3 linked regions of the Homo sapiens genome follow. The protein of the gene in region 2 purifies or fractionates together with the protein of the main gene of each other region. This does not show direct contact. Each region holds a gene or a part of one and is shown on either strand. Other genes may lie near its edges.

Evidence for each region.
Region 1: the proteins of MGARP (region 2) and SLC25A25 purify together in Homo sapiens (co-immunoprecipitation; 2 studies listed by BioGRID and IntAct, with this or other methods). This does not show direct contact.
Region 3: the proteins of MGARP (region 2) and ZYG11B purify together in Homo sapiens (co-immunoprecipitation; 2 studies listed by BioGRID and IntAct, with this or other methods). This does not show direct contact.

The regions. Positions count from the first base shown.
Region 1 is NC_000009.12:128,071,232-128,074,731, reverse strand, and holds part of SLC25A25 (mitochondrial adenyl nucleotide antiporter SLC25A25), read right to left. Parts: intron 1-3,500. UniProt on the Homo sapiens protein: Electroneutral antiporter that most probably mediates the transport of adenyl nucleotides through the inner mitochondrial membrane.
Region 2 is NC_000004.12:139,277,914-139,281,740, forward strand, and holds the start of MGARP (protein MGARP), read right to left. Parts: upstream 2,313-3,827; 5' UTR 2,246-2,312; coding exon 2,164-2,245; intron 1-2,163. UniProt on the Homo sapiens protein: Plays a role in the trafficking of mitochondria along microtubules. Regulates the kinesin-mediated axonal transport of mitochondria to nerve terminals along microtubules during hypoxia.
Region 3 is NC_000001.11:52,732,802-52,736,528, forward strand, and holds part of ZYG11B (protein zyg-11 homolog B), read left to right. Parts: intron 1-3,727. UniProt on the Homo sapiens protein: Serves as substrate adapter subunit in the E3 ubiquitin ligase complex ZYG11B-CUL2-Elongin BC. Acts to target substrates bearing N-terminal degrons for proteasomal degradation with the first four residues of substrates being the key recognition elements.

The sequences.
Region 1 (3,500 bases), on a different chromosome or scaffold from region 2:
GTTCTTTTTTGTTTTGTTTTGTTTTTTGAGACAGAGTCTGGCTCTGTCGGCCAGGCCCGTGTTGGCACGATCTCAGCTCACTGCAACCTCCGTCTCCTGGGATCAAGCAATTCTCCTGCCTCAGCCTTCCGAGTAGCTGGGATTACAGGCGTGTGCCACCACGCCCGGCTAATTTTTGTATTTTTAATACAGATGGGGTTTCACCATGTTGGCCAGGCAGGTCTTGAACTCCTGACCTCAGGTAATCCACCTGCCTCGACCTCCCAAAGTGCTGGGATTACAGGCATGAGCCACCACACCCAGCCCTATTCTTATTTGTTACTTGGTTTTAGGATCAGGGTATGGGACTGCATCTTTCCAAATATCAACTTATTAAAAAAAAATCTTCTCAGCTGGACATGGTGGCTCACGCCTGTAATTTCAGCACTTTGGGAGGCTGAGGTGGGCGGACTGCCTGAGGTCAGGAGTTCGAGACCAGTCTGGCCAACATGGTGAAACTCTGTCTCTACTAAAAATACAAAAAAGTTAGCCTGACGTGGTGGTGTGCACCAGTAATCTCAGCTACTTGGGAGGCTAAGGCAGGGGAATTGCTTAAACCAGGGAGGTGGAGGTTGCAGTGAGCCGAGATTGCACCACCGCACTCCAGCCTGGGTGACAGAGTGAGAATCCGTCACACACACACAAAAAAATCTTCTCAAGGACAGGCATGGTGGCTCACACCTGTAATCCCAGCACTTTGGGAGGCTGAGGCAGGTGGATCACTTGAGGCCAGGAGTTGGATACCAGCCTGGCCAAAATGGCGCAACCCAGTCTCTACTGAAAATATAAAAATTAGCAGGGCATGGTGGCGCAGGCCTGTAATCCCAGCTACACCAGAGGCTGAGGCAAAGAATTGCTTGAACCGGGGAGGTAGAGGTTTCAGTGAGCTGAGATCACGCCACTGCACTCCAGCCTGGGTGACAGAGGAAGACTCTGTCTCAAAAAAAAAAAAAAGTATTCTAGTTGACTTGATAATTATGACTTTGAGCCAGGGACCGATTATGCAACAATATAACACAATTAGTTTAATATATGAATTTAATCCAATCTGTGAAAAGCATTTTTCTTTTCCTAAAGGGCCATTATATTATAGCGAATAATGTCTATCTCTTGGAAAGGAGCTTTCTTCTGTAGACTGTCTTATCTAAGTCTGGCTCTTTTGATAAACATCCACAAATGGCCAAACATTTAAAAAGTATAGAGTTCAACAGTCTGTCTGATTAAGCAATACCAACTTGACATTACTGATCTCCATTCAATAATTTCAAGTCAATAGGGATTGCCTCATGTGCACTGCTCGGGTCAGGGAGAGAAATGGGGGAGGGCGGATTCTTGTTCTTTGACAGGGTAAACTGGATAATCTTGAAACCTATACTTTGGGAGCAAAATATGTGGTTCTAAATTATCTCTCCTCCTCTTTCTCAAGTTTCCCCAAAAGAACTTGAGAATTCTCTTCATGTTCCTGAAAAAAACTGTGTTAAGGAGGAGAGGAGCAGGAATCAGAAGATGGTTCCAATTCCTTCTCTGGTCCAATTTCCTTGCGATCAAATGATCTTTGAGGTTGTTCCATTGTCTTTTTGAACCATTGTTCCTTCCCTAGTAAAATGGAGTGAAAATCATTTTACTGACTTGCTTACTTAACAAATTTTTGTGGGGCTCAAAAGAGATGGTGTGGATGCCAGTCTCTAAATGAGCAAACTGCAGCTCATCTAGAACCTCACCTGCAATAAACACCAGCCCCTTACAAGAGCCCCAAAGCCTCAGCTGGAGAGACAACTGTTTACACAGAATACAGCTTGCTTTCTTCCTCTAATTGGCTGCCTGAGTTCTAACCTATGTTTTAAATTTGTTTTAAGACACAGATTGTATTTGGTCACATGAAAATGCCTTAAATAGGCAATCTATAATTAGCTCTGGCTGAGTCTCATCTCCCAAAGTCACTACTGTTGTCGTCATCTTTTTTCTTTCTTCTTTAATGAACTCTTCCCTTTTTTTGTCCCAGAACAAGCTTCTCGCTTACATGCCCTTTACAAAGAAAATTTCCCTGGCTGGCTGCCAACGGTTTCTCTGCCCACTTCCATTTTAAGCAATTTTTATGAGTGTCCCATCTCTTCTCAAACAAAGGCAGATGGCAAAACTTGCTGGTTTACTTTTAAAGAAAACTTGACCCAGACTGTTATAAGCTAAGAAGAGGCTTTGTGAAGTCACATGGCCTGGGTTTACCCATCACCCCCTGATAAGCACTCACAGCTGATTCCCGTGCAAACCCCAGCATCTCACACTGGTTTCATATGGGCCATAGGAAGCACCTTCCAAAGTTTGATGTGTTCTTCAACATCTATTCCCATGGCAGATGACCCATTTTGACCCAAAGGGCCCCACAGTTCTCTTTCGGCTCCTGCTAGTTCTGCAAAGCCTCAGCACTGCTTTTTCTGTAGGCAGTTAATACTAATGCTAATTCAACAGGAAGTGGTATGGGGGTACAAGAGGCAGGATGTCTTCCTGTTGCCCAGTTATTTACAAAAAGGCAGATCTTCTCTCCAAGACTTCAAACGTTCCCCACAGGACTAACTTGTGCTCCTTTACAGGTAATGAGCTAATAAATTATTTCTGATCTCAAAGCTGTATAACAACTGAATTTGTTCAAAAGCCAAAAAAGTAGTAGAAATACAGTCTATACTGCCTGGTGCAGTTGCTCGCGCCTGTAATCCCTGAACTTTGGGAGGCCGAGGTGGGTAGATCACTTGAGGTCAAGAGTTCGAGACCAGCCTGGCCAACATGGTGAAATCCCTTGTCTCCTAATAGTACAAAAATTAGCCGGGCCATGGTGGCGGGCGCCTGTAATCCCAGCTACTCAGGAAGCTGAGGCAGGAGAACTGCTTGAACCCAGGAGGCAGAGGTTTCAGTGAAATCACACCATCGCACTCCAGCCTGGGCGACAGAGCGGACTGCTTCTCAAAAAAAAATAAAATAGATAAATAGGCCAGGCGCGGTAGCTCACGCCTGTAATCCCAGTGCTTTGGGGGGCCAAGGCGGGCAGATCATCTGAGGTCAGGAGTTTGAGACCAGCCTGGCCAACATGGTGAAACCCCATTTCTACTAAAAATACAAAAAAAAAAAAAAAATTAGCAGGGCGTGGTGGTGCGTGCCTGTAGTCCCAGGGAGGCTGAGCCAGGAGAATCACTTGAACCCAGGAGGCAAAGGTTGCAGTGAGCTGAGATCATTCCATTGCACTCCTGCTTGGGCAACAAAAGTGCAACTCCATCTCAGAAAAGTAATAATAATAATAGATAAATAAATGAAATACACTCTATACTAAACCCACACACCAAAAGAATAAAGAAATGCTTCCTATCATAGAACTTAGATCTGTCATGGAGTCAAAGATTTTAGAGTCAAAGTGACCCCAAGGGGCTAGGCTCTCTTTGGTTAATAAAAGTTTTCTTTCAAAACCAGAAAGA
Region 2 (3,827 bases):
ATTATTTATTCATTAAAAAGTTACCCTTTTAAGGCTGGGCTCGGTGGCTCACACCTGTAATCCCAGCACTTTGGGAGGCCGAGGTAGGTGGATCACCTTAGGTTGGGAGTTCAAGACCAGCCTGACCAACATGGAGAAACCCCATCTCTACTAAAAATGCAAAATTAGCTGGGTGTGGTGGCCCGTGCCTGTAATCCCAGCTACTCCGGAGGCTGAGGCAGGAGAATCACTTGGATCCGGGAGGCGGAGGTTGTGGTGAGCCGAGATCACGCCATTGCACTCCAGCCTGAGCAACAAGAGTGAAACTCTGTCTCAAAAAAATAAAATTACCCTTTTAAAAGCAAAAAGGAGAGAACAAAATGTGATGAGACACAGTTAAAAATTTTTCCTTCAATAAAACTGAAAAAAATTATTTTTCATCAAAGTAGAAAGTATGAACAAAAGGTTAAGTAATGTCCACGACTGAAGACAAATTTGTTTCCAATCAATAATAGTTCTTAAATACATTTTAAGTGCTGCAAAAATAGTTAGATGAAAATCAGAGAAAGACCAGTACCTTTACAAGCAGCATTGCTAGATACGTATTTAAAATTTTTAAACTACTTCTATTTTGCCGCAAATTGGGAAGAAAATTATTTGGAATTTCTGCAGCTACAAAAAAAAGGTGCGCGTGTGTGTGTGTGTGTTTGTGTGTGCGTGCACGCGCGCATGATGTCGGTGGGGAACGCAGACAGATAAAACGAAAGGCCACGGTCAGAGGACTAATCTTTCTCCCCGTTCTCAACAGAACAGTCCCGTTATCTTCCGAAGTTTAAAATAAATGGCTTCTCCCTACTTCATCAGTGTATATATATATTTAAAAGCTCTATATCATTTGGTATAAAGATCTAGAAAAATAAAGGCAATAAAGATCTAGGAAAACGAAGATGTCTTATTTCTGATACTTGAGGGATAACTTCCTTCCACCAGCATTTTACAAGAAAAATAAAGCGAGTTAGTTAGACCTCCGTCCTTCCCTCCCACCACCACCAACAGAGGCCTAATCAACGTGAAAAAAAAATCGGCCCATGGAATTCTCCGCGCACATCTTTCTCTCCTGCTGGAATCCACCCTCTGGGGTAAAATTATCTCGGAAGGCTCAGAAAGTGAGGCTAAGTGAAGAGAGCATTAAGAACCCTTCACGATATTGTCTAAGAGCCGTCCCCCAGTCGTGAGTGGAAGAGAGAGGGGTGACGGATGGGGACTAGGGAAAAGCGGCTGGGGCAGAACCGCCCTGGAGCGCAAGCCTGGTCCCAGAAGAAAAACAATCTTCCTTGCTCACACCTATTAAGCACCTACTATGTTCCCAGCACTATACGAAGCGCTTTCCTATATGTCCGTTTTTATTTAATAAGCCTCCAGTTCACACTGCAACTCCCCCTTTAGTTAATTGCTGAGTATTCTGCTTTTTCTCGCGTATCCTCAGAACCAAAGGTGTCGATATTTGGACTACAGAGCCAAGCAGTTGCAGGACGACGTGCAACCTCAAAGGAAAGTGTCCCGAAGGCCGCTTCCTTTTTGGGGGTTGTGGATCTCAGAGCCAGGCGCTCGCGGGGTTCAGGCTGCTGAGACCCTGCCAAGGGTTAGGTTTATTTACCCCACGAACATTCGCCCAGCGTCCACTGAGCGGGCCCTGCCTCACTGCCTCCCAGCGCTTGCCGGGCCCGCTCGCTGATCGGCGTCCACCTTCCCACCGTTCCTCTGCTTCCTCAGGAGATTGGAGAGCGAATGGTGCCTCTAACAATAAAAGTGGTAAGCTGCGACTTTGTCAGCCAGGCACGTTTTTAAGTGCTTTTAACCATACATTAACTCATTAAAAAGGAAAACCATCATCGCCCTCATTTTATAGATGAGGAAACAGGTTAAGCCATTTGTCCAAGATCAGGATGCGAACCCAGATAATCTGGACTCTGAGGCACCCTGGAAAAGTTCCCTACTTCCAAAGTCTGCAGGAGCTTCGGGACGTCTTCCCGGGAGTCTCCCCCAGTCTCCTCGACCTCCAATCCAGGCTTCTGCTGCTCTGGGTCGGGTTTGGCCAACTGGGTGCCGGCCGGTTCCCTGGCGCGGGCGAAATCTGCACCCGAGGCGCCCGTCCTCCTCTCCGGGCTAGACCTCCTTACTCACCGTCCTTTCCGAGCGGCGCGGGGTTGGGGGGCGCCCTCAGCGGCAGCGCCAGAGTCTTGGAGACCGCCCTGCGGAGATACATCGCGCCCGCTGTCCGCCGCGCAGCAGCCTCGGTACCCAGGCGCAGGCTGCCCTTCCACAGAGAGGCTGAGAGCCTGGCAGCGCCCCGCCCGGAGGAGGCACGTCGACCTTCATCCAGCCCCGCCTCCGCGGCCCCCGGGAGGTGGGGAGACCTTTGTAGTCCTCACCATCCTCCCCTAACCCATCTCCAGCTCTGTTGCTATCCCTGAGGTCTCTAGAGCTGACCGCGGCATCTCAGAAAAGGGATGGGGAACCTACAAGTCGCCGTCGCCTGCCTGGCTCATTCTGTACCACTGAATGTAACTCCTCACAGCAAGCTGGAAATGTTTTGGGAATTGGACGAGATTAAGACAAGGACACAGTTTATCACGCTGGATGTAATCTGAAACCATTTTATCTCCTGCATTCCGTTAGCTTTCCTAGGAGAGGGAAGGATAGCTGGAAGTTTCTTAAAAATGAGAAGAGCGAAGGGGTAGCCTCAGCCTTCCATTAGCGCACTGGGTGATGCTCAGAATCGTAAGAAAATCTGCAGACAATGGTTGAATTTCTAGACAGCTCACTGTTAAAACGACTTTAAAATATCAAAAACACTGTATATTCCTCTATGGGATGTGAAATTAATATTTCCACATCAGCGGCCGGGCACAGTGGCTCACGTTTATAATCCCAGCACTTTGGGAGGCCGAGGCAGGCGGATCACTTGAGGTCAGGAGTTGGAGAGCAGCCTGGGCAACATGGTGAAACCCCGTTTCTACTAAAAATACAAAAAATTAGCCGGGAGTGGTGGCGCGGGCCTGTAATCCCAGCTACTCGGGACGCTAAGGCAGGAGAATCGCTTGAACCCGGGAGGCGGAGGTCGCAGTGAGCCGAGATCATGCCACTACATTCAAGCCTGGGTGACAGAGCAAGACCCTGTCTCAAAAGCAAAACAAAACAAAACAAAAACCCCAAAAACAAAACAAAACAAACAAAACAAAAAAACACATCAACTAAAAATACTAAATTATTAGTTTTCCGTCTCATCGTGGCTACAAGAACTTGTCATGGTTTGAATATGGAAACCAATAATTTATTACGTTTATAACATTGTCTAAATGATTACTCTTTGGAAGACACCATTTCCTACTATAATAATCCCTTATGTGTGTTTGGCACTTGAAAGATTATAAAGCACTTTCACATCTATTATCTCTTTTAATTTTCACTGCAACCCTCTGAGGGAGGTGGCAATTATTCCCTTTAGCAAATGCCACCACCAGGTGGTGGGTGGGAATGTCCAGGGATTTACTGGTGGTCATGAATTAAAAAACAAAAAGGACATGAACATAATACTTCTAGCTTAAAGTTCTATTGGCATGTAACAGGCACAATATTTGTTCATTTGCTATGTAAATAGACGTTTCTCAGAAGTTATAGTCCTGAACCTAATTATAATTATATTTAACATATTCTCATAAGAAGAGTACAAGCCAATGATCAGATTGGTTTTTTGATACTCAGAAAGAGAGTTAACTAGTTTAATCACTAGGGTGACAGAGCGAGACTCAGTCTCAAAAAAAAAAAAAGTTTACAACATAGATGGG
Region 3 (3,727 bases), on a different chromosome or scaffold from region 2:
TGTCTCTACTAAAAATACAAAAATTAGCCGAGCGTGGTGGCGGGTGCCTGTAATCCCAGCTACTCCGGAGGCTGAGGCAGGAGAATCACTTGAACCCGGGGGGCGCGGAGGTTGCAGTAAGCTGAGATCGAGCCATTGCACTCCAGCCTGGGCAAAAAGAGTGAAACTCCATCTCAAAAAAAAAAAATTATTAACCCAACATAGGAGGTTATTTTCCTTAGATAAAGCTCATGCGTGGAAGCAATTGTATACAAAGACAGAATTATTTCCTATTTCAGTAAAATTTACAAACAAGCCTCAGCTAGTTCTCTGTAGGATCATCATTCTAGTCATTTTCAGAGTATCTTGCATTGAATTTCTGTACGTAAAATTATCTTAAGTTACTGAGAAAGTTTTATCAGATTTTACTCTGTGGTAAAATTTGTATATCAAACCTTTTATAGGTTCCCTGATTTCAAAATAATAGTAATATCTCTTAAATAGAATGTTAGTTTTTATTCTTTTTTATTAAATGTGTTTGTTCTAGAGGTCATGCTTAATGATTTCCAAGAGTATATTTTTTGTATAGTTTTTGTGAGGCTGGGCATGGTGGCTCACGCCTGTAATCCACATCTATAATCCCAACACTTTGGGAGACAAAGGTGGGTGGATTGCTTGAGCCCAGGAGTTCGAGACCAGCCTGGACAAGATAGTGAGACCCTATCTCTACACAGAATGAAAAAATTAGCGCACATCTGGGGTCTCAGCTACACAGGATGCTGAGGTGGGAGGATTGCTTGAGCCTAGGAGGTTGAAGCTGCAGTGAGCAGGGTTCACACCACTGCACTCCAGGCTGGGCAACAGAGCAAGACACTGTAAGATCAATCAATCAATCAATCAGAGATATCTTGATGTATCATTTAAGAATCATGATCAGATAAATGTACTCATTCTTGTATTTCATCATCAATGTACTTATATTTCTTGTCTTTAACAGTTTGTTATACAAAGAAAAGCTACTGCATTCAGTGTTCAGATTAAGTTATAACAATGCAATGACTTTATCATGAGCCATTCTCCTAATTCCCACTAATTGACACACATTCAGTAGATAAATTGTTGGATACTCTCAAACTATTCTATTTTTATAAAGGAGAAAATTTTAGATAATTATTAAATATTCAAAAATATACAAATTGAAATAGACATAATTTTTTTTTGTTTTGTTTTTTCATAGTGACAGGGTCTTGCTCTGTGGCCCAGGCTGGAGTGCAGGGGCGTAATCATAGCTCACTATAACCATGAACTCCTGGGCTTAGATGATCTCTTGCTTCATCCTCCTGAGTTGCTGGGACCACAGGCATATGCCAGCATGCCCAGCTAATTTTTTTTATTTTTGTAGAGGTAGGGTCTAGATTATGTTGCCAGGCTGGTCTCAAACTCCTGGGCTCAAGTGATCCTACTGCCTCAGCCCATCAAAGTGCTGGGATGTCAAGCCATGAGCCCGGCAGACATCAATATTGAATGTAATGATGTGAGCCTGTAGATGAATTGGGAAATGCTGGCTAAAACACTGCTTTTTTCATAGGTCCTAAAACTAGCTCTTAAAGTATATTTAATAAGCGGTAGAAATAGTCATTATTAACAATGGAATAAAAGGTTTTTTTTTTTAAAGAGTCTCAATCTGTTGCCATCTCAAAAAAAAATAAAAAATAAAAAATTAGCTGGGTGTGGTAGCGCATGCCTGTGATACCAGCTACTCAGAAGGCTGAGGCAGGAGAACCACTTGAACCTGGGAGGCGGAGGTTGCAGTGAGCCGAGATCGCGCCATTGCACTCCAGCCTGGGCAACAAGAGTGAAACTCTGGCTCCAAAAAAAAAAAAAGTGATTTGGCAGTATGAGTTCAAGAACCACAAAATTGTACACACTCTCTGACCAATTTTCTTTTTCTTTTTCTTTTATTTTGAGATGGAGTTTCGCTCTTGTTGCCCAGGTTGGAGTGCAATGGTGCAATCTGGGCTCAACACAACGTCCACCTCCCGGGTTCAAACGATTTTCCTGCCTCAGCCCCCCGAGTAGCTGGGATTACAGGCATGTGCCACCGTGCTCAGCTAATTTTTGTATTTTTGGTAGAGACAGGGTTTCTCCATGTTGGTCAGGCTTGTCTTGAACTCCTGACCTCAGGTGATCCGCCCGCCTTGGCTTCCCAAAGTTTTGGGATTACAGGTATGAGCCACTGCGCCCGGTCCAAATCACTTTTTTTTTTTTTGAGACGGAGTTTCTCTCGTTGCCCAGGCTGGAGTGCAATGGCGCGATCTCGGCTCACCGCAGCCTCCGCCTCCCAGGTTCAAGCGGTTCTCCTGCCTTAGCCTCCCTAGTAGCTGGGATTACAGGCATGTGCCACCATGCCTGGCTAATTTTGTATTTTTAGTAGAGAGGGGTTTCTCCATGTTGGTCAGGCTGGTATCGAACTCCCAACCTCTGGTGATCCGCCTGCCTCGGCCTCCCAGAGTGCTGGGATTACAGGCATGAGCCACCGTGCCCGGCCCAAATCACTTTTCTAAAGCACTTTGAAGAACAATATGTCTTCAGCACTTAAGTATTTCTTTGACAAACTTAATGCTACAAGTATTATTCTCACACTAAGTAATTGTGATTAAGATTTTTCAGGCTCATAAATGAAAGAAAAAGAAATTGTATAGTAACTAGGCAAGGGTGGAATGAGAAAAGACTGGAGGCGTGCCACTCTTCCTACTCAGAATTTTTTTTATTTTGAGACAGAGTCTCTCTCTGCCACCCAGACTGGAGTGCAGTGGCGCGATCTCGGCTCACTGCAGCCTCCGCCTCCCGAGTTCAAGTGATTCTCCTGCCTCAGCCTTCTGAATAGCTGGAACTACAGGCGCCCACTGCCATGCCCGGCTAATTTTTGTATTTTTTAGAAGAGATGGGGTTTCACTATGTTGGCTAGGCTGGTCTCGAACTCCTGACCTCAAGTGATCTGCCTGCCTTGGTCTTCCTACTCAGAAGTTTTAAATTCCTCCCTATTGTCTGAGACAATAGACCCTGTGAAGATACCTTTTTAACACTGAAAACCTTGAGAGACAGGACAGTAACATACTTTCAGAACATATTAATTGTGGGGGAGAAAAAGCAAAAAGCAGGTCCAGTAGGAATTCAGTAATATTTTAAAATGATACTCTGTTAAGTCTAACATCTATTATGCATTAAAAATATCAAGATATTATTGTGTACAGAGTGTACTTGATATGCATGGGAATTTGTGAACTCCTTAAGATCCTTGTGGAGCCTGCAGTTTCGGCCCTGCTAGTTTACAGTGGTCTTACAGGGCTGCTGTGCTATACAGATTGTACTGCACAATTCAGCTAACAGCCATTCATATAGACAGCAGTGAATCTACAGAGATCTGTATCCTGTGTACTTGGTGATGTCTAGCACATAGTAGGGACTCAGCAAATAGTTGTTGAATGAAAGTGTTTTATTTATTTATTTATTTATTGAGACAGAGTTTCTCTCTGTCACCCAAGCTGAAGTGCAGTGGCGTGATCTCAGCTCACTAGAACCTCTGCCTCCCGGGATCAAGTGATTCTCCCACCTCAGCCTCCTGAGTATCACAGGCATGCACTACCATGCCCAGCTAATTTTTTTCTTTTTCTTTTTTTTCTTTTTTTTGAGATGGATTCTTGCTCTGTCACCCAGGCTGGAGTGCAGTGGCACCATCTCGGCTCAC